Homo sapiens: one gene and its partners. The protein of the gene in region 4 interacts with the protein of the main gene of each other region in a pairwise test. Each region holds a gene or a part of one and is shown on either strand. Other genes may lie near its edges.

Region 1 (3,500 bases), on a different chromosome or scaffold from region 4:
AGCATTAACAGCCAATGGGCAAAATACAGCCAAAAGACTGAGGAGAGGGCAGAGGGGCAGATTTAAATTAACGTAGCAGCAATGCTGGGCTACTGGAAAAAAGATGACTGATAGTAGGACTAAAACTGCCACCAAAGTTAAAATGCCTATATAAACTGTTTCAACAAAGTCACACTCAGAATATTTTTGTTTTTTTAATTAAACTTACGCAGGCTGGGTGTGGTGGCTCATGCCTGTAATCCTAGCACTTTGGGAGGCCACAGCAGATCACTTGAGGTCAGGAGTTTGAGACCAGCCTGGCCAATATAGTGAAACCCCGTCTCCACTAAAAATACAAAAATTAGCTGGGTGTGATGGCATGTACCTGTAGTCGCAGCTACTTGGGAGGCTGAGACAGGAGAATCGCTTCAACCCAGGAGGCGGAAGCTACAGTGAGCTGAGGTTGCACCACTGCACTCCAGCCTGGGAGACAGAGCAAAACTCCATCTCAAAAACAAACAAACAAAAACCAAAAAAACTCAGGCAAACCAAAAAAGGCATCATAATGTAATAAAAGAAAATATAGGTTATTTGGCTAGTTTTAATATGTTTACTTTAAAAAATAAAATACAGCAGAGTATCTAATGTCATCAAGACCCAATATGGAAAGGTAGCTAAATAAACCATTCGTGCTCTTGCATTTGTTTCTGATTTACTTGGTACCATACCTAAATAATAATGTGCACAAATCTTTTAATTGATTGTATTCAGAATTTATTAAAAGCACCACTTATTGGATAGTTTATTAAATGCATGCAAGTATCTGTATATGATTTCTTCAGCATATGTGTGTTTAAGGCAACATGAGAGAGAGCCAGAGACAGGAAAGCTGTCCATTTTAAAATCAAATTGGTGTATATCTCCTGCTTATTCAACATGTTTTGGTCTTGGAATTGTTTCTCTAATAATGTACTGGCAAGTCAGACGTTAAATTATTTAAGGTTTCTAAACACTGATTTGGTGGAAGTGCTAACAATCCTTGTGAACAAAGATAAGCTTCAGAAAAACTGAACAGCACTAAAAAAAAGTATCTACTTTGGAAAATAATGATCCTTTGTAATTGATTTTGGTTTTAGATATAAAGTTTACATTGGTAATTCTAATGTCTGTTTACCAGTTTAATTTTAAAAAGTACTTGGCTGGGTGCAGTGACTCACACCTATAGTCCCAGCACTTTAGGGAATCTGGAGCAAGAGGATCACTTGAGCCTAAGGATTCCAGACCAGCCTGGGCAACATAGTGTGAAACCCCATCTCTACAAAAAAAATTTAAAAATAAACCTTGCATGGTGGTGCGTGCGTGCCTGTTGTCCCAGATATTCAAGGCTGAGGCAGGAGGATCACTCGAGCCTGGGAGGTGGAGGGTGCATTCAGCCATGATTGTGCCACTGCACTCCAGCCTGAGCAACAGAGCAAAACCCTGTCTCAAAAAAACACAAGGAAAAAAAAAGTACTTAGCCAGGTGCAGTGGCTCATGCCTGTAATCTCAGCAGTTTGAGAGGCTGAGGTGGATCACTTGAGGTCAGGAGTTAGAGACCAGCCTGGCCAACATGATGAAACCCCATCTCCACTAAAAATACAAAAATTAGCTGTGTGTGGTGGTGTGTGCCTGTGGTCCCAGCTACTCAGGAGGCTGAGGCAGGAGAATCGTTTGATGCAGTGAGCCAAGATTGTGCCACTGCACTCCAGCCTGGGTGATAGAGTGAGACTCCATCTCCAAAAAAAAAAAAAAAGTACTTATCACAGAGACATAACCATAAACTTAAGTTCTAATAGTACTGAAAGTTATTTTAAATAGAAATCTTTTACAAACATCACAATAGTGTCTTTTATAGAATGCCTAGACAAAACCCAGTTCTCTAATTATTTTCCTTATAGGAAATCTAGAAAAAACCTTCAGTAGAATGGTACTAGTATGACAAATTCAATATTATAGTCTCAGAAGTTCTTTCATTTTTAAAGGATAAAAAAAAAACCAAAAGAAAGTCAACATGGAGTCAGTGAAAAAATTCTACACCAGAAGCAAAGAGGTGCACTAGATCTACATGAAGAAAAGCACACCACTGAGAATTACTTACAATAAGAAAATGAAAAAAATCCAGAAAAATACTGTGCTCTCAGGGACATACAAAAAATTAAGAACTCAGGGTGGGGGAAAAAACAGTATTAAAGAGGACTGGGACTAAAAAAAAAAAGACTATAAGTTAAATAAAAACACAATAGAAATTTAAAATCCAAATTATAAGCAGTAAGGAAATCAGTGATGGAAGGGCCTAACTTAAGAAGCTATGCAAAAGAAAAAAGTTAGAAAGGATGTGTGAGATGACAGCAATGAGAACAAGAAAGGAGAGCCAACCAATGAAAAATTCCTGGAGAAAAAAACAAGAGCAAAACAAAAGGCACCAACTTAATATTTTCCTCAGCTAAAAAAAAAAAAAAAAAAAAAAAAAAAAAAAAAAAAAAAAGATTTCCACATCTAAAGGACCTGTTATCTTTTAGATAAAATTATTGGATTTAAAAAATCAGTAGCTATAACCCTAAACTTTGAAATATTTTAATCATTTTACATCTACAATGCAACAGATGGCTGTATTTGCTATGGAAAAGGCACATTTATCCAGTCAGGATGGTGTAAATCTGGTATTTTACTGCGTACCTTGATTATTTTGTATTTGGGTTTGGACATTAACTTGCTGAGGGCAGAAACAAGAACCTGAACTCATGCCTTAAGATAAAAATTGCATTCTTTTTATACACCTACTACATTTGAAACTATGCAGTGGCTCAATCATGGCTCACTGAAGCCTCAATCTCCCAGGCCCATGAGATGCTTCCACCTCAGCCTTCCAAGTAGCTGGGACCACAGGTGTGTGCTAGCACGCCCAACTAATTTTAAAGTTTTTTGTAGAGATGAGCTCTCCCTATGTTGTCCAGGCTGGTCTTGAACTCCTGAGCTCAACAGATCCTCCAGTCTCGGCCTCCCAAAGTGTTGGGATTACAGGCATGAGCCACTTCGCCCAGCCCACCCAAGCATTTTTATGGGCTCTGAAATGTACTACGTAAAAAGGACACGCTTTATTGGTTTAGAAAGTTAAGTATACATTATTATTATGATCAGCAGTAGGATAGCTATTTTATTTCCACCAGTCATTGATTAAAACAATCCAAGTGTAGTAGGTATTAATCAGTAGCTTAAGCTGGAAATAAAAATTTACTATGGGAACGACTACAGTGCTTTCAAATAACCGACATATGAAAAATTTACAGCTAACCTCTTCCAAAGAGCTGTCCATACTGCAGTCTCCAATGCTCTTCCTCCTGTTGTCTCTTGAAACCACACCAATCAGGTTTTCTTCCTCACTATTCTCCTGAAAGTGCTCTTGCAAGGTCACCAAGGACCTTCCTATTACTAAATCCAATGGTCATCTCCTAGTCTTCATCTTACTTGACTTGTCAATCAGC
Region 2 (3,500 bases), on a different chromosome or scaffold from region 4:
TTCCAGAATTTGTAGTACTTCTGTAAACTTGGTAACCTAAAGCACTTGAGTAAATCAGTGACTCGCAAACTTTTTGTCCTCCAGACACTTAAACTCTTTTTTTGTTATTATACTTTAAGTTCTGGGAAACATGTGTAGAATGTACAGGTTTGTTACATAGGTATATATACATGTGCCATGGTGGTTTGCTGCACCCATCAACCCTTCATCTACATTAGGTATTTCTCCTAATGCTATCCCTCCCCTAGTCCCCCACCTCCCTAAACTCTTAAAAAAGTGCTGAGAACTCCAAAGAGCTTTTGTCCATTGATATATACTTAACCACTGCAGCTATGATATCAGCATGTCACAAAGCCTCTGGAAAGCCACTTGTGAGAAAATTAGAAGAAAAATGGCAAATATCTCTGAGAGGCGGTGAATAGTTAAGTGAATAGTTAAGTTAGACATGTTTAGTTAGGAATAATAATGACTATGTTTTTCTAACCTTTATTAATTTTTTTAACAGGATTATCTACTATCTAGATCCATCTGTTCTGTCCGGCGTTTCCTGTTTTGTTATGTTTTTGTGCTTGGCTGACTACCTTGTTCCCATTCTAGCGCCTAGAATTTTTGGCTCCAATAAATGGTAGGTAGCATAATGATTTGGCAGTCTCATTTTTGTGTAGTTACTGAACTTGGTGGCTGTGATTAGTATGCTGTAAATAAGCAGAGATAATTGTCTAACCATCAGACACCTAAGCATTAGATTTATTGCTTTTATGTGAAGAATATTGTAACTGATTTGAATATAAACTATGAATTTTCTGTACTCCATAGTTCTTTTATGGTAAATGCACATATACATTTTTACATTTCCATTGATATTTAGGATAGTATAATAACTTCACAAATTATTTTTGAATGAATACAGAAAAGGAAACTGGCAGATTTTCATTCACATTCATTTAGCAATTATTTATTAAATGCCTACTGTGGCAGGCCCTGTAAAGTACTGTGAAATATTTTGACTTTTAAGATTGATCTTGTGTTAAGGCTGAGATACTGAGACACTGAGGCAGTGGAATGGCAGTTAACAAAGTGAATACCAAGTGTTTCCGAAGAGGTTCAAGCTGTATACACATGGGTTGCTGATTTTATTTATACCATTCTCTTTTTTTTTTTTTTTTTTGAGATGGAGGCTCGCTCTGTTGCCCAGGCTGGAGTGCAGTACGCTCTTGGCTCACTGCATGCTCCACCTCCCAGGTTCATGCCATTCTCTTGCCTCAGCCTCCCGAGTAGCTGGGACTACAGGTGCCCACCACCACACCTGGCTAATTTTTTTTTTTTTTATTTTTAGTAGAGACGGGGTTTCACCATGTTAGCCAGGATGGTCTCGATCTCCTGACCTTGTGATCCGCCCGCCTCGGCCTCCCAAAGTGCTGAGATTACAGGCGTGAGCCACCGTGCCCGGCCTATTTATACCATGAGGTTGCTTATGAACTCCTCAGATATAGTTAAGTGGATAAGGATCATATTAAAAGTATTTTAACTTTCTCTAGCATGTTGAGTTTTGATTCAAATAATCAGCCAAAATAGAAGTTGGAATAGATATTTTCTTCTCAGCTGCTATTCTATCCTTGGCTGTTTATTTTATTTGGTTAGTATTCTACTTGTGCCTTTGGTTGTTTGTATCTCAGAGGATAGCAAATTGCAAAATAATTCTGTAAATATAAGAATTTTAAATGTGTACCTTATGGATCTTTAAGAACAAATTCAAAGTTTGCTTAAATTATGATATAATTGACAATATTTAAAGGTGTTTCCCCCAACAGCAGAATGGATTAGTGTTAGGAACTGTCCAAATTGTTTTTCACTTGCAGTAATGAATCAATGTTGTTGGCTCTTTTGGGCAAGTTTCTGAATGTGCAGTATAACAGAGTTAGCAAAGGAAATAAATCACTGACCTTGGCCTTATTAGCCAGATAACATTCCAGTCTGCTAATTTATAACTCCTAGAGGAAAGTTTGCAGAAATAACCACTGATAGTTTCGTGATGTGACTCAGTTATTGATAGAGCAGATTTTGTTTATTTTTTGATCTTACAAGGAAGAAAGAATACTCTTTTGCATAGCCACAATCTAGCCTTGACCATGGGCAAGAAATAACATCTCATTGTTGAAAAGAAGTTCCAGGGCTCAGCAGAAATCCTTGTACTTTATCTATCACTGCAGTTTTACAGAGATGAGGGCTAGAGAAGAGAAGGCAACACATCCCTCAGCACAGGGCAATAATAGCAGCCATTATAGCTGTGTAGCGAAGACAGTGCAAAGGCAATTAAAAAAATCAGAACCAAGAAAAACATTATAAATATAAAAGGTTTTCTTGGAGGGTCTCTTGTTGGATTTTTACTGCTGTGTTGTTTGTTGATTATATTTTCCCTCCCTAGGGATAAATTTACAAAGAAGAATTTAGATTTGAGCTGTTTATTGCTGCCTTGTCATCAGATGTATGAAGCCCAGTTGGGGGTGTTATGTGTTAAATGCCAGTAGTTAGTATCTTACTAAGGAGTGTTCAAATACAGTTGTTCGGTGGGATTCTGGTAGGTATAGTGCAGCATTTACTAGGATCTAAAGAATATTTAGGAATAGCAAAATCAAATTTATACTGATTTCTTTATGGCCCATAGAAGTCATGAGTCTTTTACTACCATTAAATAAATGTGGCTTCAGAGCCAGAGATGATCCTTTCTTTATCACACGCACACACACACACACTCTCTCTCTCACACACATAGTTTATGTAAATACTTACTCCTGTGCTATAAAAGGTGTCTTAATGGTGGAAGGATTTTTTCACCTACATAAGATAATGGTGAAACATTGTTTTTATTTTTATTTTCTTTAGAAGATAGCTCTTAAATTGAACAGGGTGTCATGTTTTTGTCTACTGTAACGATTTGTTTATAGCAAAAGGCAAATTTCTTTTCTAGGACCACTGAACAACAGCAAAGATTCCATGAAATTTGCAGCAATCTAGTAAAAACTCGACGCAGAGCTGTGGGTTGGTGGAAACGCCTCTTCACACTAAAGGAAGAAAAACCTAAGATGGTACTTTTTTTGCTTTGACTTAAGTACAGTAAAATTTTAAGATTTGAGTCAATTCGCCTTTTTGTCTTAATAGCTATAATTTGAAAATTATTCATTGGTTAATTCCTAAGTACATTCATAAATGTTTACCTGTATTAATTAGACTGAATCATTTTAAAGTTAAAAATTACATTTTTGCATTTAATTTTTTATTCTAATAAAACAAAATTCTTCTGTTTCATTTTTCTTACTGAAATAATAGTAAAAGACATATACTTAGAAAGCATCTGTTTAGGCCGGGCACAGTGGCTAATGCCTATAATCCCAGCTACATGGAAGGCTGAGGATCACTTGAGCCCTGGAGGTCGAGGCTGCAGTGAGCTGTGTTTGCGCAGTGAGCTGTTTGCACCACTGCACTCCAGCCTTTGTGACAGA
Region 3 (3,554 bases), on a different chromosome or scaffold from region 4:
GACTCATTTGGCATTGAACCTCAGCTTTACTACTAGTCTAGTGACTTTGGACAAGTTAATCTACCACAGTTGCCTCATCAGTAAAATGGGGCTAGTAATATTACCTACCTCATAGTTGTAAGGATTAAATAAGTTAATTCACAAGAAGGACTTAGAACAGTGCCTTGCATGTTATTATTATTCTTGTCCTTACACCGGAGGTTGAAAACTGGTGGGCTGACTTTGACCTAAATTTGTCTTCCAGATAGGTTCTATTTGGCTTACATAGATGTCAGCCCACACATGGTGTTTAAAACATTTTTTTCACTTAGTTGAAAATCAGGCTATTTTATATAAAAATCCAGATTTCTGGCTTCTCTTGAATAATGGAATGACTGACTGATTCCAGGCCAACCTTCTAGCATGATAAGATTTGCCTAGATGCAAGTAGCTACTGCCCCCCTTTAGCTAGAACATGTATGCTTCAGGGTGTCATGATCCCCACCAATTCCTAGGATCCCCTAGTGACAATTGCCATCGATCATCAAGCTCATACTCAGTCAGCTTCACTCTTGACATTACCCGCCAGGTTCTTCTAGGCGTCTGGTATCATAACCCTTGCTTCACACTTATCTCGTCACTTCTGACCACTATGCTGCCGTCCTAATTGTCCCTACCCTCCCAAATAACCTAAGGCCAGGACAACCCAGTGACAACTCACTGCTGTCCTCTCCCCACAGTGCCCTGGGCTTGCTGTACTTCATCCGGCGAGGAAAGCAGTGTCTGGATTTCACTGTCACTGTCCATTTCTTTCACCTCCTGGGCTGCTGGTTCTACAGCTCCCGTTTCCCCTCGGCGCTGACCTGGTGGCTGGTCCAAGCCGTGTGCATTGCACTCATGGCTGTCATCGGGGAGTACCTGTGCATGCGGACGGAGCTCAAGGAGATACCCCTCAACTCAGCCCCTAAATCCAATGTCTAGAATCAGGCCCTTTGGACATCCTGCTGACACTTGGGCCCCTTAACACCTTGGGCTGCTCAGACCCTCCAGATGAGGTCCAGCCCAGATCTGAGAGGAACCCTGGAAATGTGAAGTCTCTGTTGGTTTGGGAGAGATAGTGAGGGCCTGTCAAAGAAGGCAGGTAGCAGTCAGCATGACAGCTGCAAGAATGACCTCTGTCTGTTGAAGCCTTGGTATCTGAGAGGTCAGGAAGGGGACCTCTTTGAGGGTAATAACAGAATTGGAACCATGCCACTCTTGAGCCACAATACCTGTCACCAGCCTGTTGTTTTAAGAGAGAAAAAAAATCAAGGATATCTGATTGGAGCAAACCACTTCTTTAGTCATCTGTCTTACCCCCCTGGGACAGCTGTTACCTTTGCAGTGTTGCCGAATCACAGCAGTTACCTTTGCAGTGTTGCCGAATCACAGCAGTTCTGTTGGAGAAACGCTTGGTTTCCGGATCCAGAGCCACAGAAAGAAATGTAGGTGTGAAGTATTAGGCTGCTGTCAGGGAGAGGATGGCAGATGGAGGCATCAAGCACAAGGAAAATGCACAACCTGTGCCCTGTTATACACACGTTCATGTGCACCCAAGAACCTATGACTTTCTTCCAGTTCCTTCTACCAGGTCCCCATCCTGCTGCCAGCTCTCAACATAGCAGGCCATAGGACCCAGAGAAGAATCCCAGCGTTGCTCAAAGTCTAACCATCATAAAGACACTGCCTGTCTTCTAGGAATGACCAGGCACCCAGCTCCCACTGGACTCCAATTTTTTTTCCTGCCTTATTTAGAATTCTTTGGCGGGAAGGGTATGATGGGTTCCCAGAGACAAGAAGCCCAACCTTCTGGCCTGGGCTGTGCTGATAGTGCTGAGGGAGATAGGAATTTGCTGCTAAGATTTTTCTTTGGGGTGGAGTTTCCTCTGTGAGGGGCTTGCAGCTATCCTTCCTGTGTATACAAATACAGTATTTTCCATGGTTCTGCCTGCACTTACTTTGTAATGCCACGGTTGAGATTGAGAGAGATCAGCGCAGCCAGGCAAGGGAACTTTAAAGAATTATTAGGCCACCTTCTCCCTTTCCTGGACCCCAGAGTCATTCCTCCATTTGGTTAAAATACTCAGTGCAGGGAACTCTTACATCCTGTCTCCTTCACTTGCAGCGTCCCCTGCTATGCCTCAGGTGAACCACATAATTCTTGGGTTTCCGTTCCTACTTGCTAGTGATTTCTGAACATGTTCAATGGAGCGGCACACAGTCTAGACCCACTTCCGCATTGAAACCTTCACTGTTCCTCTTTGGTTTCTTCAGAGCTTTCCCAAGAGAGCTGTCAGTTTTCAGCTGTCAGTAACACAAATGAGTTTATGGTAACACAAATGAGTTTTGCTATCTCTCTGAGAAGCTCATCTGACCTCCTGACTCTCAGCCCTACAGAGTAGGGAGTTGATGCTGACAGGATGAAGATTTAGGAATAAATATGCCTGGGAAGAGACTGGGAAGGTTCTAGGGTGAGGCACCTCAGTAACTCATGGTACCTTGGCCAAGTTGGAAGGAAGCAGTTTGTTAATGAGGCACAGTAATCCTGGCTGCAGGGTCTAGGAGGTAAGACCAGCTGGGATGACCTTCCCTGGGTTAATCAATTTCCCTCTAGACAACACAAACTGCAGGCATGTGACTAACTTTGAAAGAACACCCATCATGTGGCTGCTGTCACCCTTGACCAGCCGTGGTGGTGGTTACTCCATCTGTGGTTGGAGCGCCTCTTTGGGATTCACTTCAAGGTCTTGTGCCTATTTTTCTGCATATCTTCTGTGATGACAAATCTCTGTCCCCTGAGTGTTAATTTGATTTTTAGAAATGGCCAAAAGTCACGTGATCCAAACTTTTTTTCAGTAATATGGAGACTGAGCTGCATGGTAGTTGGGGATCAAAAATATGTGACCTTAATGAGATTTTTATGATTTCTAAAGTAACAATAAAAGCAGTTTTTAGAGTTGAGTTCCAGAGAGGGCAGGGCAATGGCAGTGACATGTTTGTCATTTTAATAATAAATAACATCTATTGAGTGCTTAAGAGGTGTCCAGCAGTGTGGGCTGAGTGCTTTATGTCTCTTTTCAAAATCTTCACAAGAACCCTCTGAAGTAAGAAGTAACGTCATCTGTATCTTACAGATGAGGGAGCTGTAAGGAACTTACCCAAGGTGACTTTTTAGGAGCTGGCAGAGCCAGGATTTGGGCTCTAATAGTGATATTAATAAGCTCATTTTGAAGAGGTCAGTAGTTAGGGATGTATAAGTTCTGACTGGCTAAACAGTCTGGTTAAATAGTTTATCACCTTATAATCATATCTTCTTGTCCTGTCAATTTTTTTAAATACCGAGGATGAATAGTACTTTATAAACATTACTAGCTTTCTAAGAAAAGCTGATATGCAGTACATTAAATATAGCCAGAGATTTCCTTTTTTTTTTTTTTTTTTTTTTTTGAGGCAGGGTCTTACTCTGTCACCCAGGCTGGAGTGCACTGGTGTGATCTTGGCTCATCATAGCCTCAACCTCCCAGGCTCAATGATCC
Region 4 (3,500 bases):
CAAATTCAGTAATGAGTGCCCATCCCACCCAGCTCACCCCCCAACACCTCAAAAGGAAACAAAAGAATCATAGCTTTCCTGTTGGCAAGTCAGTCCTTGAAGCTTCTGATTCATTTCTTTCAGGTGGAGCTGATCAGAATAATGTTCAGCATCAACCCCCTGGAGAACCTGAAGGTGTACATCAGCAGTCGGCCTCCCCTGGTGGTCTTCATGATCAGCGTAAGCGCCATGGCCATAGCTTTCCTGACCCTGGGCTACTTCTTCAAAATCAAGGAGATTAAATCCCCAGAAATGGCAGAGGTATAGTATGCTCTGACTTCTCCCGGGCTGGCTGGTCCTTGTGCAGTGGGGCAACACCCTGTGGCTTGCCATATAGCTTTCTTGGGTTTTGGCCTTTCTCTCCTAGTGAGAAAAATCAGTATTTATTCAGAATTTTCTGTTTTCCATCTCCCCAGGACTCACTTTGTTAGGAAATACCTAGATGGGTATTGTTCGATTTAAATATGCTACCAGTTTCAGTTAGACTATTTTAGCAGTGAAACATGCACTTTGGAGAGTACATTTGTAAAATGATCTGTGTCAAAAAGCTGGAGACCTCACCTCTGTAATATTCCATCTCAAATGGGTTCATTGCTGTTTTAGAAAACTGAACATTTGGTATTTTAAAACCACATATCATCATGGAGTTTTATCAGCTATACTAATGGTTTTTTTCATGAGATAAGAAGGAATCCTAAAGAAATTCAAAAACAGGACCTAATTTCCAAATATATTTGTTTTTTGTTTTTTGAGACGGAGTCTCGCTCCGTCACCTAGTCTGGAGTGCAGTGGCGTACTCTCAGCTCACTGCAACTTCCACCTCCCGGGCTCAAGCGATTCTCCTGCCTCAGCCTCCTGAGTAGCTGGGATTACAGGTGCCTGCCACCACGTCTGGCTAATTTTTGTCTTTTTAGTAGAGACGGGGTTTCGCCACGTTGGCCAGGCTGGTCTCGAACTCCTGACCTCAGGTGATCCACCCATCTCGGCCTCCCCAAGTGCTGGGATTACCGGTGTGAGCCACCGCATCCAGCCTAATTCCTGTCTTTTAGTAGATTCCTTGGGTGCCTTCTCTTATTCTATTTCCTTCTTCTTGGGTTTGTTGGTGGGTGGAGGTGGGGGTGGGAGTGGGGCTGGGAGTGCGTGGTTGCCGCATTGAGTGTGCCTTGCAATGGAGAGGAGAGTTGTGTTCCATGTAATTGAGATCGTAGCTTTCTCTCATGCTCTAGGGCATTCTAGATCTTAAGTGATCTTGGCAAAAGGAACCGCCTACACATGTGAGCTCTTTCTAGCACAGTTCAAGTAACGAGTTTTAGCTATTTCTACCATGTAACCCTTTCAAAGAGTTTATTACTAAGAGACATACTGGCTGGCTTAATTCTCTCTCTTTTCTGACCCTGCCTCAATCTTTAAAGGTTGTGAAAACAGGCTGCCCCCACATCAGGGCTGAAAATGAATATTCTACTCAAAACTAAAGCTGCACAGCCTCCTGCCATTTCTTTCCCGCAGAGCTTGAGTCCATGTTGAGCACTTGGCCAAGGCCAGTGGTTGCACTGAAGCCTGGATAATTAGCCCTTAATAATCCAAATTAGGCCTGGCATTGGCTTTAGCCAGCTGTTCAACGTGGACTCCAGCTCTGTAGGAACGCATTGTTGAGATGCTGCGGAACTTTGGTTATGATTAGTTTCGTGATTTTTGTTTTCAAATGAGGATCCTAGGTTGTAGGAAAGGCAGTGGTGTATGGGAAACATTTGGGGCTGTGAATCAGAACTTAATGCTGATTTTACCTTGAACTAGAATTGGAGAGTCCCTAATTTGCCCTGGGCCTCAGTTTCTTCATGTCTAGGATTATGAAGGACTGAGACTAGAATGTTCATTTTCAACCCTAATGTACTAGAATGGTCAGTTGAGTTTGTAGGTGTTAGGGAAAATGTAATTTGATAGATCCAGTTGCAGTCTTACTAAATGTCACATACAGTTAAACTGATGCTGTAAGGGTAGACTTACTGGGCTGGGTAGGGGTTGCTCAGATGACTTTTTTTTTTTTTTGAGGTGGAGTGTCACTCTGACACCCAGGCTGAGGCTGGACTTCAGTGGCGCGATCTTGGCTCACTTCAGCCTCTGCCCCCCTTCAAACGATTTTCGTGCCTCAGCCTTCCAAGTAGCTGGGATTACAGGCATGCGCCACCATGTCCAGCTAATTTTTGTATTTTTAGTAGAGACAAGGTTTCACCATGTTATCCATGCTGGTCTCGAACTCCTGGCCTCAAGTGATCCACCCTGCTTGGCCTCCCAAAGTGCTGGGATTACAGGCGTGAACTACCGTACCTGGCCTCAGATGGCTTTTTTTTTTTTTTTTTTTGAGACAGAGTCTCACTGTGTCGCCCAGGGTGGAGTGCAGTGGCACGATCTCCTCTCACTGCAACCTCCACCTCCCAGGTTCAAGCGATTCTCCTGCCTCAGCCTCCCAAGTAGGTGGGATTACAGGCACACACCACCACACCCGGCTAATTATTGTATTTTTAGTAGAGACGTGGTTTCACCATGTTGCTCAGGCTGGTCTCGAACTCCTGACCTCAAATGATCCACCCACCTTGGCCTCCCAAAGTGCTGGGATTACAGGTGCGAGCCACCGTACCTGGCCCCTTCCTTTTTGAAATCGTTGCTGCTCTAAGGTGTCATCAAAAGTCCATAAGAAGGGGGGCAGTGTCCCAAATGAGTATTAGTATTCACTGCTGTTTTGTGTTCTAGAGAAAGAGAGCAAGGTGTATGGAATTGACCTTTTGGGACATTATTTTAAGGTGACTTTATTTAAAGAAAAGAATTGTAGTTGCAAAATGAGTTTGGATTAATGCTTTTCTTCAAGCGTTCTTTTCAAGTTTGGTTCTGAGGCTAGATCATTTTCTCTAAGTGTAATATGCTGGATTTTTTAAAAAGATTTTCTTGAATAAATTGATTTGATTTCACAGTTTATTGAGTATCTTGTGCCAGTGAAGAGTTCATATTTTAGGTTGTGAATATAAAAGTGATTAGGAAAGCCACATCATGCTGCCTGTGAAGAGGGTGGTGGCCGAGTTGTCATGATCTTAAATGATCAGCTCTGAATTGTAGTTTGCTGATGTGCTGCGGTGCCACACTGGGGTCTTACCTGTATTCCCGCAGTGGGAGACAGGCGCTGCTTAACACCCATTTCTCTTTCTTTCACTTTCCCAAAGGATTGGAATACTTTTCTGCTACGGTTCAATGATTTGGACTTGTGTGTATCAGAGAATGAAACCCTCAAGCATCTCACAAACGACACCACAACTCCGGAAAGTACAATGACCAGCGGGCAGGCCCGAGCTTCCACCCAGTCCCCCCAGGCCCTGGAGGACTCGGGCCCGGTGAATATCTCAGTCTCAATCACCCTAACCCTGGACCCACTGAAACCCTTCGGAGGGTATTCCCGCAACGTCACCCATCTG
Region 5 (3,500 bases), on a different chromosome or scaffold from region 4:
CCTTGCCCACTGTCTTCTGTCTCCTTATCTTGCCAAAGGTGGAGACCAGGAGACCTCAAGCCCATTCTCAGGCAGCACCAAGAGTTAGAATCAGTCTGGCTTGAGGGTGAGCATCAGGATGACGCTCTATATTCACGGAAAATGTCTTTCTGTCTTTCTTTTTTCTTTTCTTTCTTTTTTCTTTCTTTCTTTCTTTCTTTCTTTTCTTAGATGGGGTCTCACTATATTTTGTAGGCTGGAGTGCAGTGGTTATTCACAGGCACAATACAGCCTCCAACTCCTGGGCTCAAGCGATCCTTCTGCCTCAGTCTCCAGAGTAGCTAGGATGACAGGCATGTGGCACTGCTCCTAGCTTCAGGGAAAATTTCTATTCCTAATCTTGATTTTCCACTCAAGGTGACCTGAAAGTCTCCTGAAATCAAAAGTTATTTTAATAAGAGTGCCAGCTTTAAGAGAAATGACTGCTGCAGATCATCACTATGCTTCAGGAAGAATCACCGTGGGAACAGTGGGAGACAAAGCTTGGAAGCCCTGGCCCAGGGTTAAGATGAAGAGTACTTCCAATAGAACTGACATTCAGAGTTAGCTACAATCAGTGTAGGGGTTAGGGTTGGAATCTGGGGTCCGATTTGGTTGATGTTAGAGCAAGGCTAAATTCAGCATGTTTGGCTTGGGTGGAATTTATGGTAGGGCTAGAGTTGGATTTTGAGAACTTTTAGGCTGAGTAGAAAGAGTAGGTGCTTGAGGGGACCTGGGTTTGAATCTAGGCTGCACTATTCACTCATGGGGCCTTAAGCATGTCTTCTGCTTTCTTGAACCCTGATTTCTCACTGGGGCCAGGGATGGCTGTAAATCCTGGCTAGAGCCTGGCTGGGAGATGTGAGGTTTACAGGGGATGAAGTGGGGGTGGAGAGAGGAAGTGATTTTCCAGCCACTGACCACATTCTGGTGAATGGCAGTGGTTGCAGGTGACCAGTGAGGTTGGGATTCAGTTTGCACCAGGATGACTGTTAGGACTAGGGGTGCTGGAGCTGGGGTTGTTGTTAGGATTAGTGGGGACAGGATTGGAGCTGAGACTGGGTTTAGCCTTAGCATTGAGTTTGGGGAGAGGGCTGTAGTGTATGTTTCGATGAAGTTGGGATTTGGAGCCTGGGTTGGAAAGTGTTGGATAGTACTAAAGTTGAATTTGGGGAGTCATGGTTGGGGATTGATGTGGGCATTAGGTTTTTGGAGATGTCTGGGCTTTAAGGCTGGGATTACATTTGGCATTTAGGGTTGGGGTTTGATGTTGGAGTTTAGGAGTAAGACTTTGTTGTCATCTCTCATTTAGAAAAATGATTGGGGTCAAGGCAGGATTTAGTATTGGGTTAAGGATTGGAAGGGCTAATGGTGGTCTTAGCTCTGGCATTTGGGTTCCATGTTAGGGTGAATGTTGAGGTCACATCAGGGTAACACACTAGTCCAACCTTCTCTTCCTTCCCTCCCCCATCCTAGCCCCCTTTCGCCCAGCTGACACCCACAATGAGGTCCGCTTTGACCGCTTTGGTGATGGTATTGGCCGCTACAACATCTTCACCTATCTGCGTGCAGGCAGTGGGCGCTATCGCTACCAGAAGGTGGGCTACTGGGCAGAAGGCTTGACTCTGGACACCAGCCTCATCCCATGGGCCTCACCCTCAGCCGGCCCCCTGCCCGCCTCTCGCTGCAGTGAGCCCTGCCTCCAGAATGAGGTGAAGAGTGTGCAGCCGGGCGAAGTCTGCTGCTGGCTCTGCATTCCGTGCCAGCCCTATGAGTACCGATTGGACGAATTCACTTGCGCTGATTGTGGCCTGGGCTACTGGCCCAATGCCAGCCTGACTGGCTGCTTCGAACTGCCCCAGGAGTACATCCGCTGGGGCGATGCCTGGGCTGTGGGACCTGTCACCATCGCCTGCCTCGGTGCCCTGGCCACCCTCTTTGTGCTGGGTGTCTTTGTGCGGCACAATGCCACACCAGTGGTCAAGGCCTCAGGTCGGGAGCTCTGCTACATCCTGCTGGGTGGTGTCTTCCTCTGCTACTGCATGACCTTCATCTTCATTGCCAAGCCATCCACGGCAGTGTGTACCTTACGGCGTCTTGGTTTGGGCACTGCCTTCTCTGTCTGCTACTCAGCCCTGCTCACCAAGACCAACCGCATTGCACGCATCTTCGGTGGGGCCCGGGAGGGTGCCCAGCGGCCACGCTTCATCAGTCCTGCCTCACAGGTGGCCATCTGCCTGGCACTTATCTCGGGCCAGCTGCTCATCGTGGTCGCCTGGCTGGTGGTGGAGGCACCGGGCACAGGCAAGGAGACAGCCCCCGAACGGCGGGAGGTGGTGACACTGCGCTGCAACCACCGCGATGCAAGTATGTTGGGCTCGCTGGCCTACAATGTGCTCCTCATCGCGCTCTGCACGCTTTATGCCTTCAAGACTCGCAAGTGCCCCGAAAACTTCAACGAGGCCAAGTTCATTGGCTTCACCATGTACACCACCTGCATCATCTGGCTGGCATTCCTGCCCATCTTCTATGTCACCTCCAGTGACTACCGGGTGAGCTACCTGCCACAGAGGTCGGGGGAGATGGGACACCAGACCCTCTGTTTCCTGGTATCTTATTTAATCTACTGGTAGCTCTGGGGTTCCAAGAGGATAATGCCCACTCAGGGGACCACAGCTTGTGTGGATCCCAAGGGGAAGGTGGGAGGGCTGAATAGGACCTAGGGAAATGGCCAGGGAGGTGGGGAACTCGAGTTAGAGAGAGCTGAGATTTCAGGACTTGAATGTCATCCCCTATCCTGGAAGGTGATGGGGGTGCAGAAATATGTTCAAATGGACAGGGTTCTGCCCTGCTCCACTGAGGGGTCATCTGCAGAAGGGGTTGAGAGATGAAGCCAGGGAAGGCAGGAAAGATGAAGCAAGGTGGGTAGGGGAGGAGATCCAGGGTATAGAGTTGAGAAAAGCTAAAGCAGGTGAAAATTGTTCCCCAGTTGGTGGCTTCTGAGCAAATTTGGTTCCAACTGGCACTGTGTCTCAATGGGTCTCCCCAGCTCCAAGGGGCAATGGCTGCTTCAGATAGGGTGGTCAGGGAAGCCCTCTCTGAGGAGGTGACAGATGAGCTATGTTCTGAGTAAGAAGATTATCTTGGTTAATCTTCATAACTTGAGTAAGCTCCATGGCTCTCCCGTTTTACAGATGAAGAAACAGAGACTCAGGGAGGTTCAATCCCTTGCCCAAGGTCACTCAGCTTGGGAGTGCAGAGCAGGGTCTGAACTGCAGAAAAATTGAGGCGAAAGCCCCGGCAAAGGCCCCTTCCCCAGGACAGAGGTGTGGTGGCACAGTGCTGGGGGCCAGGGACCGCTGGGCTTGGCTGCTCTGCTTGCACCTGCTGGGCCACCTGCTTGGGTGGTAGAGGCCAGGGCTGGGGAGGGATTCTGCTCTGACTCAGCCTGCATTTGCATATGATTTGCATTTGCATGCCAA
Region 6 (3,500 bases), on a different chromosome or scaffold from region 4:
TGAAGTTATGTGCAAAATGTTGGATGTGTGTTTATATGCATTTTTCTGGGGAGAGGAGTCTTTGGCATTTATCTGATTCTTTTAGGGATTTATGATCCTGAAAACATGAAGTCCTTAGGAAAACGGAAGTGGGGAGGGGTCTGCTGAACTATTACAGGGCAGTTCAAAGCAGGGTGAGCACCCTTCCCCCACATCTGACCCACCTCGCCGGTCTCAGGTGCTGCGTTGCCAGCTCTCTGCTGAGGAGGTGCGGTTCCCAGTCTCTGTGACCCAGCAGTCCCCCGCTGCCGTCTCCATGGAGACCTACCACGTCACTCTGACACTGCCACCAACACAGGTAGAAGGGGATGTGGGAAACTGAGTTGGGCAGGGGCGGTTCCATTGGCTCAGCTTCTTCCATTTGTTTCCTCTCTGGGATGGAATTCAGGAAGGGAGAGTCCTCGAATTAGGAGTCCTTGGGTAAATGGGGCAAGTCAGCCCAGTCACTTTGTTCCTGTCTGTAGTTGGAAGTCAACCTGGAGGAAATCCCTGGTGAGGGGCTGCTCATATCCTGGGCCTTCACTGATCGCCCAGATCTCAGCCTAACGGTGCTTCCCAAGCTTCAGGCCAGGGAGGTAAGGAGGCAGAGCTGGCAGAGAAGAGGCAGAACGGGGAGGGAGGCAGAGGTGGGGGATCCACCTCCTTGTTGTTCCCTTCTTCTCTCTGCAGAGAGGTGAAGAACAAGTGGAGCTCTCCACAATTGAGGAACTGATCAAGGATGCCATAGTCAGCACCCAGCCAGCCATGATGGTCAACCTCAGGGCTTGCTCTGCCCCAGGAGGCCTGGTGAGTTGGCACCCAAAGCAAAAGATTTGCATGCACCTTGTTCCTAGGGTGCTATGTCAGGATTCTTGCTCTTTGGACCTTCTTCTGCTCTTAGGTACCCAGTGAGAAGCCACCCATGATGCCCCAGGCTCAGCCAGCCATCCCCAGACCTAACCGGTTATTCCTACGGCAGCTTCGGGCATCTCACTTGGGAAATGAGCTGGAAGGTGAGAGCTGGAAGTGGCTGCGGGACTGCCAAGGCTATGGTTGGTTGCAGATGCTCTCTGCCCCTCTGCCAAGGGTACAGCCTCTTTATTCTGCAGTGACTTCCCATCTCTGATCTGAGCATCTTCTAACTTCTGGTTCATCACAGGCACCGAGGAACTGTGCTGTGTAGCTGAACTCGACAACCCCATGCAGCAGAAGTGGACCAAGCCCGCGAGGGCTGGATCCGAGGTGGAGTGGACAGAAGACCTGGCACTGTAAGGAGTAACCCTGCCCCGACCCCATGCTCCAGAGCAGAGAGGATCAAACCTTTCCAGCACAGTCCTTGCAGGAATCAGCTCTGTTTTCAGTAGCCTTTGGCGTGAGCTCCTATTGTATGCCAGGCCCTGGCGTGGGTCTTAGGGATACAGACTTGACCAAGATACAGCCCCCACCCCTGGGTCAATGACAAGCTTGAGGCAGAGACAGGTGTACATAAAGAAGATGGTAAAACCGCTCCAGTTGAGGTTTATGTAATGTGCCGTCAGAGTGCCTAGGTGGGGGGGAGATTAATTCCCATGAGGGAATAAGGATCAGAGTAGGCTTCATGGAGGAGATGACATTTAAACCACACTTTAGAGCAAGAGTAGGATTTCATCAGAGTGTGAAAGTATTCTCGGCAGAGGGAAGAGCTGGAGCAAATGAAAGAGGGTGGCTTGCAACTGAGAGACTGGCAAGACAGGAAGAGCAGGACCAGGGAGGATTTGAATGCATAGCTGAGAAGCATGGTTTCCACTCAGGCCCTGTCCCTTTCTCTTGGGACGAGAGAGAATTTGGAGGCCAGGAGAATCTGATTGGAGCATTTATGCCGTTTTATTTATGTACACAGCTCTCTGCCTCTGGCCTGTGATCCACTCAAGTGTGGGTTCAGCTTGCTAATTTTCTCCTTCCTGCCCCATCTCCTCTTGTCCCACAGGGATCTGGGCCCCCAGAGCCGGGAGCTGACCCTCAAAGTGCTGAGGAGCAGCAGCTGTGGAGACAGTAAGTGAGGGGTGGGAGGGGCACCCCTGGGTGGGTACAGAGTGGGGTCTGGCCATGGGCCCAGCTCACAGTGCCATCCCTTTCCCCAGCCGAACTCCTAGGCCAGGCCACACTGCCTGTGGGCTCCCCCTCCAGACCACTGTCTCGAAGACAGTTGTGCCCACTCACCCCAGGGCCAGGGAAAGCCCTGGGACCAGCAGCCACCATGGCAGTGGAGGTGAGAAGCTGACCCCTGGGGTAGGTGGGAGGACACAGGGGATGGGCAGTCTCCGAGGCTCTGTCTCTTCTCTCTCCCACCCCTGGGCAGCTTCACTATGAGGAGGGCTCTCCCCGGAACCTGGGTACTCCCACCTCCTCCACTCCACGCCCCAGCATCACACCTACCAAGAAGATTGAGCTTGACCGGACCATCATGCCCGATGGCACCATTGTCACCACAGTCACCACTGTCCAGTCCCGGCCCCGTATAGACGGCAAATTAGGTAAAGAGAAGGAGCCTGGGAGCCCAGCTCTAGCCAGGGGCCCGGGACTGCAGACCCAAGGCAGGACAGTGAAAGAGGAGAGAGCCTTAATTCCAACTCCCCCTGTTTTCAGACATTCCATTCCAGTCCTACCACATCTTCCTCCCAATCTTTGTCTCTTCCAAACTTTCCCTTACCTCCTGCCATTTCCCCAGCAATTCCTCTCACTCTGCCACCCTTCTGGATCCTCCTGCCCCTCCTCATACAGGACTGTTGCACTCCTACCTTCCAGCTTCCCCTCTGGCTTTTCACAGGTGTCCTTAGCCCCAGCTGACTATAATTGTCCATCCTGCTACCCTCAGCCCTCCAGCACCCCCTGGGGTCCTCCAACAAACCCAGAGGCCTCTGTGGCATTTCTACCCCACTCAGTGGGCCCCCATGGCACTTCTGCCATTATAGGGGCCCCACTGAATTGCCCCAACTTCAGGGAGCCCCAGTACCCCCTCTGTCCCCGCTCCATATTTTCATAGCATCTCCCCACACCTTCAGCAGGCCCCATGGCACTTTCCTACACTCCCATTAGCTCCTGGGGTGTCTTTTAGTCCCCACGGCATCTTCCTAATCACCCTTGTGATTAATCACCCTTTAATCATTCTTGCCCTCTGAGTCACCCAAAGTCTGCATCTCAACAAAGACAGTAGGGGTGGGGGCCACTCTGAAGCAACTCCCAGCTCACTGACCCTCCCCCACCCACCAGACTCCCCCTCCCGCTCCCCGTCCAAGGTGGAGGTGACCGAGAAGACGACAACTGTGCTGAGTGAGAGCAGTGGCCCCAGCAATACCTCCCATAGCAGCAGCCGTGAGTGGGGAATGGGGTGCATGAGTGTGGGTTGGCCCTGGTGCCCCAGCATCAAAAAGTACTCTGGGTGGGATAGGAGGAGTTCCAATCCAAGAAAGAGCCAGGGAGAAGTCAGGTTATTCATTCTCTGC
Region 7 (4,065 bases), on a different chromosome or scaffold from region 4:
CTGGGGGGTTCATTGCCTTTCTTTGCAATGCCTTTGGTCTTAGCTTCATTTGTCCAAACTCCTCTCTCCCTTGGCTCTCCCCAGACCAGGCAAAGGCCAAGCTGGCTGGTCTCCCCACCTGTGGCCCTGAGGGCAGGACCTGGCATTCACCGTTTCTGCTAATGAGATCAAGACATGGCCTCTTCTAATTACTCCAGCCCTCACACAATCTTCCCCACATGCTCTCCACACCAGGGAGCAGCAGGGGGCAGGAAGAAGGGACCCTAACCTGGAGCATCCTGAGCAGACTGTTTCAGGGCGGGTCGGGAAAATGAAGGTTCGCCAATTCAAAGGTGGAGGGGAAAATGGTTCAGCCTTTGGGACTTGTATTTGGTGTGAAAGGAGTTGCTTGCCTCTGGGTCACAGCCCTGCATTCAGCTCCCTGACTTGCCTAGGAGTCAGGAAGAAACTTCTTGGTCTCAAGCCCAGTTAGGGGCAAGGCACTGGCTGGAAGGAAGGCCAGGGAAGGAAGGAGGTTGTCCACTAGAGGCAGCAGCCAGCCAGCCCAGCCCTTCTCTGGTGCCTGCCGGTGTGGTCCTCTCCCAGAGACTGGGGGGCCTTCATCTGCCCCATGAGGAAAAGAGGAGTGGAGGACCATGGAAAGGGATCCAGAAAAAGAAGGAAACACCAAGTCCCAGGGGCATGAGCTGGAAGGGAGGGCTGCTCCTCCCAGGGGAGGCTGGGGACTGAGAGCTGTCCCCAAGAGTGGAAAAGGAGGGAGCTGGGCAAGACCCAGCATTGTTAGTAACCAGCTCTGTGGTCTTGACTTGACCTCACTGATTCTCAGTCTCCTCACTTGGAAAAGGGCAAAACAGCCACGTGCAGGCCGTGGTGGGCACCCGGGCTGTCTGCAGATAGCTTGGCTCATTGTTGGTCCTCAGTACGCAGCCCTCGTAGCCAAGCAGCTTGGGCCTACACTCTGGGCCCAGGGGAGTGGCTGTCGCTGGCATCCCCTGGAATAACATGCTCCGGGGGTCAAAGATTCCTTAGCTGGAAAGGTCTAGGAGGAGACTCCCGCTCTGCTCCCTCCTGCACCAGCGCTGTGCCCCCCGCCGGCCAGGCAGAGCCATCCGATGCCGCTGGGCCGCCCACTGAGGATCTGCTGGCTGCAGCGAGTGGAAGGACCTGCTCGGCTGGAACGTTTTTTTTTTTTTTCCCTCCCAGGCGACGTCCGATGGGTGTGTCGGGCAGGAGGTGATATTTGACAGGCTGCGCGCGGGCGAGCTGCCGCGGAGCACCCGGCAGGGGCTGACAGCATGGCCTCGCCCGACCCGCCCGCCACCAGCTACGCCCCGTCCGACGTGCCCTCGGGGGTCGCGCTGTTCCTCACCATCCCTTTCGCCTTCTTCCTGCCCGAGCTGGTGAGTGCGGCACCCCCGACCCGGGCCACCTGCAGAGAGGGAGGGGGAGACCGGCCTCGGACCCAGACCGGACCGAGAAGAGAGAGACCCAGACCGGACCGAGAAGAGAGAGGGGCAGCAAGCACAGGGGCCACCTGCAGAGAGGGGGGGGGAGACCGGCCTCGGACCCAGACCGGACCGCGCCGAGAGAGACCCAGACCGGACCGAGAGCGGGGAGCGAGCACAGGGGCTGCGGTGGCTGCCAGCCTCCCACCGGGCGCACAGCGGGGCGCAGCTGTACTCAAGAGGCAGATGCCACTCGGTGCCCCGTCTTATGCCGCCAAGGGGGTTCCTCCCTCCAAAACAAAACCCACTTGAGTGTGGAGGCCTGGGGGGACGTCGCTAAAATATCCAGGCTTCCCAGGGAGATGTTGCACATGAATTTTAATTACGCGGCTTCTTTTGTCCAACTATTTGTGCCTTTCTGGTTTGAAGTGAGGAGACTGTGTTTCCCTCTGAGAGTAGGTCTTCCAGTGTTTTCTTAATTGTCACGTCCGCTGACTTTGAACTTTGACTTTTGTGGGGTCTCCCACACCAGGTAGCTATGGCAACATCTGCCATAAAACAGTCGTGTGCGGCACCCTGGTTGCAAATGAGAACCTGTCGCTGTGTTACTCTCTGGGGCGCCCTACGACTGAGTCGTGGCCCTGATCCCTGGGGATCCTGCCTGCTCCCATCTGCAGAGCTGTGCGTATGCAGCGTTCCGCACTGCACAAGTTCCCTCGGAACTGGCTGGTACCACATCCTCTTCACGGAGGAGCACAGTCAAGCCTGGGGTCCAATCAAGGCAAAGGAGTGTTTTCTTTTTCCAGCACCTTCTGAAGTATCTAGCTTGTGGGTGGTATTTTCTTACCTGCCCTGAATTTGGCAGTGCTGTCCCTGAGCAGGGGGGAAAAGATAGAAAGTGCATCTACTTTTCAGCCCTTCTCATTCTCGTCTTCTGCTTGCAAAGTTGGGCCCCCTCAAGCCACTTTTAGGCAAACTGGCGAACGGGTTAGCCATTGATGGCGACCAGAAAGAGAATCAGGCAGGGTGGGCCTAGGATCTGAGTGGCTCCAGCTGAAACCCCACCTAAGAGGCAGGTTTCTGCCAAGGCTACCATCCCCAGCACAGCGTGGGCATCCTGCCAGACTGATGACATAACCGTGCTCTGATGAGTCCTACGTGCCAGGCCCTGGGTGTGCCCCTCACCTTGGAGCAGCTGCATGGGTGGCTGGGGTACTGGTTGACTCTGCCTCTTTTTATTGAGCCTGTGGTTCATGTCAGTCCTGCAAGCCCCTGGTGACAGGGCACTGCCTCCTGGTGGTTTCCTGTCTGCCGGGAAGAGACTCATGAGCATTTCCTCCCAACAAGTGGATGGTGGCCTCAGCAAGGAGGGACCATCTGAACTCTCCAGGCCAAGGAGGGGTCCAGGCCTGCCACCAAGAGTTGGACCTCAAAGAACAGGCATTTACAGGCTGGGGGGAAAGAGAGGGAAAGGCCTAGAGGCCAGGGGAGAAGTCCTGGAAGGAGGCTAGAGGCACGGAGTTTCTGGAACCAGGACAGCACCCAGGGTGAGAAACATGAGAGGTCATGTTGGCCGCACCTGCCCTGCTCCTGCCAGTGAAACTCCTGGAAGAGCAAAGTGCACGCTGGTGTTGGGCTCTGGGGCCTTACGTGTTGTGGGGGGTGAGGGGCTCAATGACAATCAAAATTCACATTGGCCCAATTTTCTTCATTTATTTGTACTGTTAAGTAACGTGAGATTTACAGTAAAGCTGCAATAATAGTAGAGAAAGTTCTGTGTACTCTTCCCTCAGCTGCTGGTAATGCCTGCATCTTCCGTGGTACAACTCTTGAAATCAGGAAACTAACACTGATACTGTGCTATCAAGTACTCTATAAACCTTACTCCAGTTTTGCTAATTTTCTCACTAATGTCCTTTTTCTGGTCCAGGATCCCACATGGCACTTAGTTGCCGTATCTCCTTCATCTCCTTTAATTTGGGAAAATCTGGGTCCTTATCTTGACACTTCTGAAGAGTACTGATTAGGTTTTTTTCTTTTTTTGTGCTTTTGAAAAATTTATTTTTCCATAAATTATTGGGGTACAGGTGGTATTTGGTTACATTAGTAAGTTCTTTAGTGGTGATTTGTAAGATTTTGGTGCACTCATCATCCATGTATACACTGCACTACATTTGTAGTCTTTTTTTTTTTTTTTTTTTTTTTTTGAGACAGAGTCTCGCTGTCGTCCAGGCTGGAGTGCAGTGGCGCGATCTTGGCTCACTGCAAGCTCCACCTCCCGGGTTCATGCCATTCTCCTGCCTCAGCCTCCCGAGTAGCTGGGACTACAGGTGCCCCCACCATGCCCAGCTAATTTTTTTTTTGTATTTTTAGTAGAGACGGGGTTTCACTGTGTTAGCCAGGATGGTCTAACTCCTGACCTCGTGATCCGCCTGCCTCGGCCTCCCAAAGTGCTGAGATTACAGGCGTGAGCCACCGTGCCTGGCCCATATTTGTAGTCTTTTATCCCTCACTCCTCTCCCACTCTTCTCCCCAAGTCCCCAAAGTCCACTGTATCATTCTTATGCCTTTGTGTCCTTATAGCTTAGCTCCCACATATCAGTGAGAACATACGATGTTT

Evidence for each region.
Region 1: the proteins of TMEM248 (region 4) and ANKRD46 interact in binary tests that used the Homo sapiens proteins (3 or more experiments, as listed by UniProt).
Region 2: the proteins of TMEM248 (region 4) and ARL6IP1 interact in binary tests that used the Homo sapiens proteins (3 or more experiments, as listed by UniProt).
Region 3: the proteins of TMEM248 (region 4) and SYS1 interact in binary tests that used the Homo sapiens proteins (3 or more experiments, as listed by UniProt).
Region 5: the proteins of TMEM248 (region 4) and GRM2 interact in binary tests that used the Homo sapiens proteins (3 or more experiments, as listed by UniProt).
Region 6: the proteins of TMEM248 (region 4) and C2CD2L interact in binary tests that used the Homo sapiens proteins (3 or more experiments, as listed by UniProt).
Region 7: the proteins of TMEM248 (region 4) and MALL interact in binary tests that used the Homo sapiens proteins (3 or more experiments, as listed by UniProt).

Annotation. Positions count from the first base shown.
Region 1 is NC_000008.11:100,553,260-100,556,759, forward strand, and holds part of ANKRD46 (ankyrin repeat domain-containing protein 46), read right to left. Parts: intron 1-3,500.
Region 2 is NC_000016.10:18,795,050-18,798,549, reverse strand, and holds part of ARL6IP1 (ADP-ribosylation factor-like protein 6-interacting protein 1), read left to right. Parts: intron 1-505; coding exon 506-625; intron 626-2,968; coding exon 2,969-3,086; intron 3,087-3,500. UniProt on the Homo sapiens protein: Positively regulates SLC1A1/EAAC1-mediated glutamate transport by increasing its affinity for glutamate in a PKC activity-dependent manner.
Region 3 is NC_000020.11:45,366,156-45,369,709, forward strand, and holds the end of SYS1 (protein SYS1 homolog), read left to right. Parts: intron 1-719; coding exon 720-960; 3' UTR 961-3,054; downstream 3,055-3,554. UniProt on the Homo sapiens protein: Involved in protein trafficking. May serve as a receptor for ARFRP1.
Region 4 is NC_000007.14:66,941,725-66,945,224, forward strand, and holds part of TMEM248 (transmembrane protein 248), read left to right. Parts: intron 1-123; coding exon of another isoform or gene 124-141; coding exon 142-300; intron 301-3,251; coding exon 3,252-3,500.
Region 5 is NC_000003.12:51,713,568-51,717,067, forward strand, and holds part of GRM2 (metabotropic glutamate receptor 2 isoform a precursor), read left to right. Parts: intron 1-396; coding exon of another isoform or gene 397-416; exon of another isoform or gene 417-457; coding exon of another isoform or gene 458-554; exon of another isoform or gene 555-1,494; coding exon 1,495-2,570; intron 2,571-3,500. UniProt on the Homo sapiens protein: Dimeric G protein-coupled receptor which is activated by the excitatory neurotransmitter L-glutamate. Plays critical roles in modulating synaptic transmission and neuronal excitability.
Region 6 is NC_000011.10:119,110,344-119,113,843, forward strand, and holds part of C2CD2L (phospholipid transfer protein C2CD2L), read left to right. Parts: intron 1-217; coding exon 218-337; intron 338-503; coding exon 504-614; intron 615-708; coding exon 709-825; intron 826-919; coding exon 920-1,031; intron 1,032-1,177; coding exon 1,178-1,286; intron 1,287-1,984; coding exon 1,985-2,049; intron 2,050-2,138; coding exon 2,139-2,266; intron 2,267-2,356; coding exon 2,357-2,531; intron 2,532-3,267; coding exon 3,268-3,369; intron 3,370-3,500.
Region 7 is NC_000002.12:110,113,023-110,117,087, reverse strand, and holds the start of MALL (MAL-like protein), read left to right. Parts: upstream 1-1,265; 5' UTR 1,266-1,295; coding exon 1,296-1,400; intron 1,401-4,065.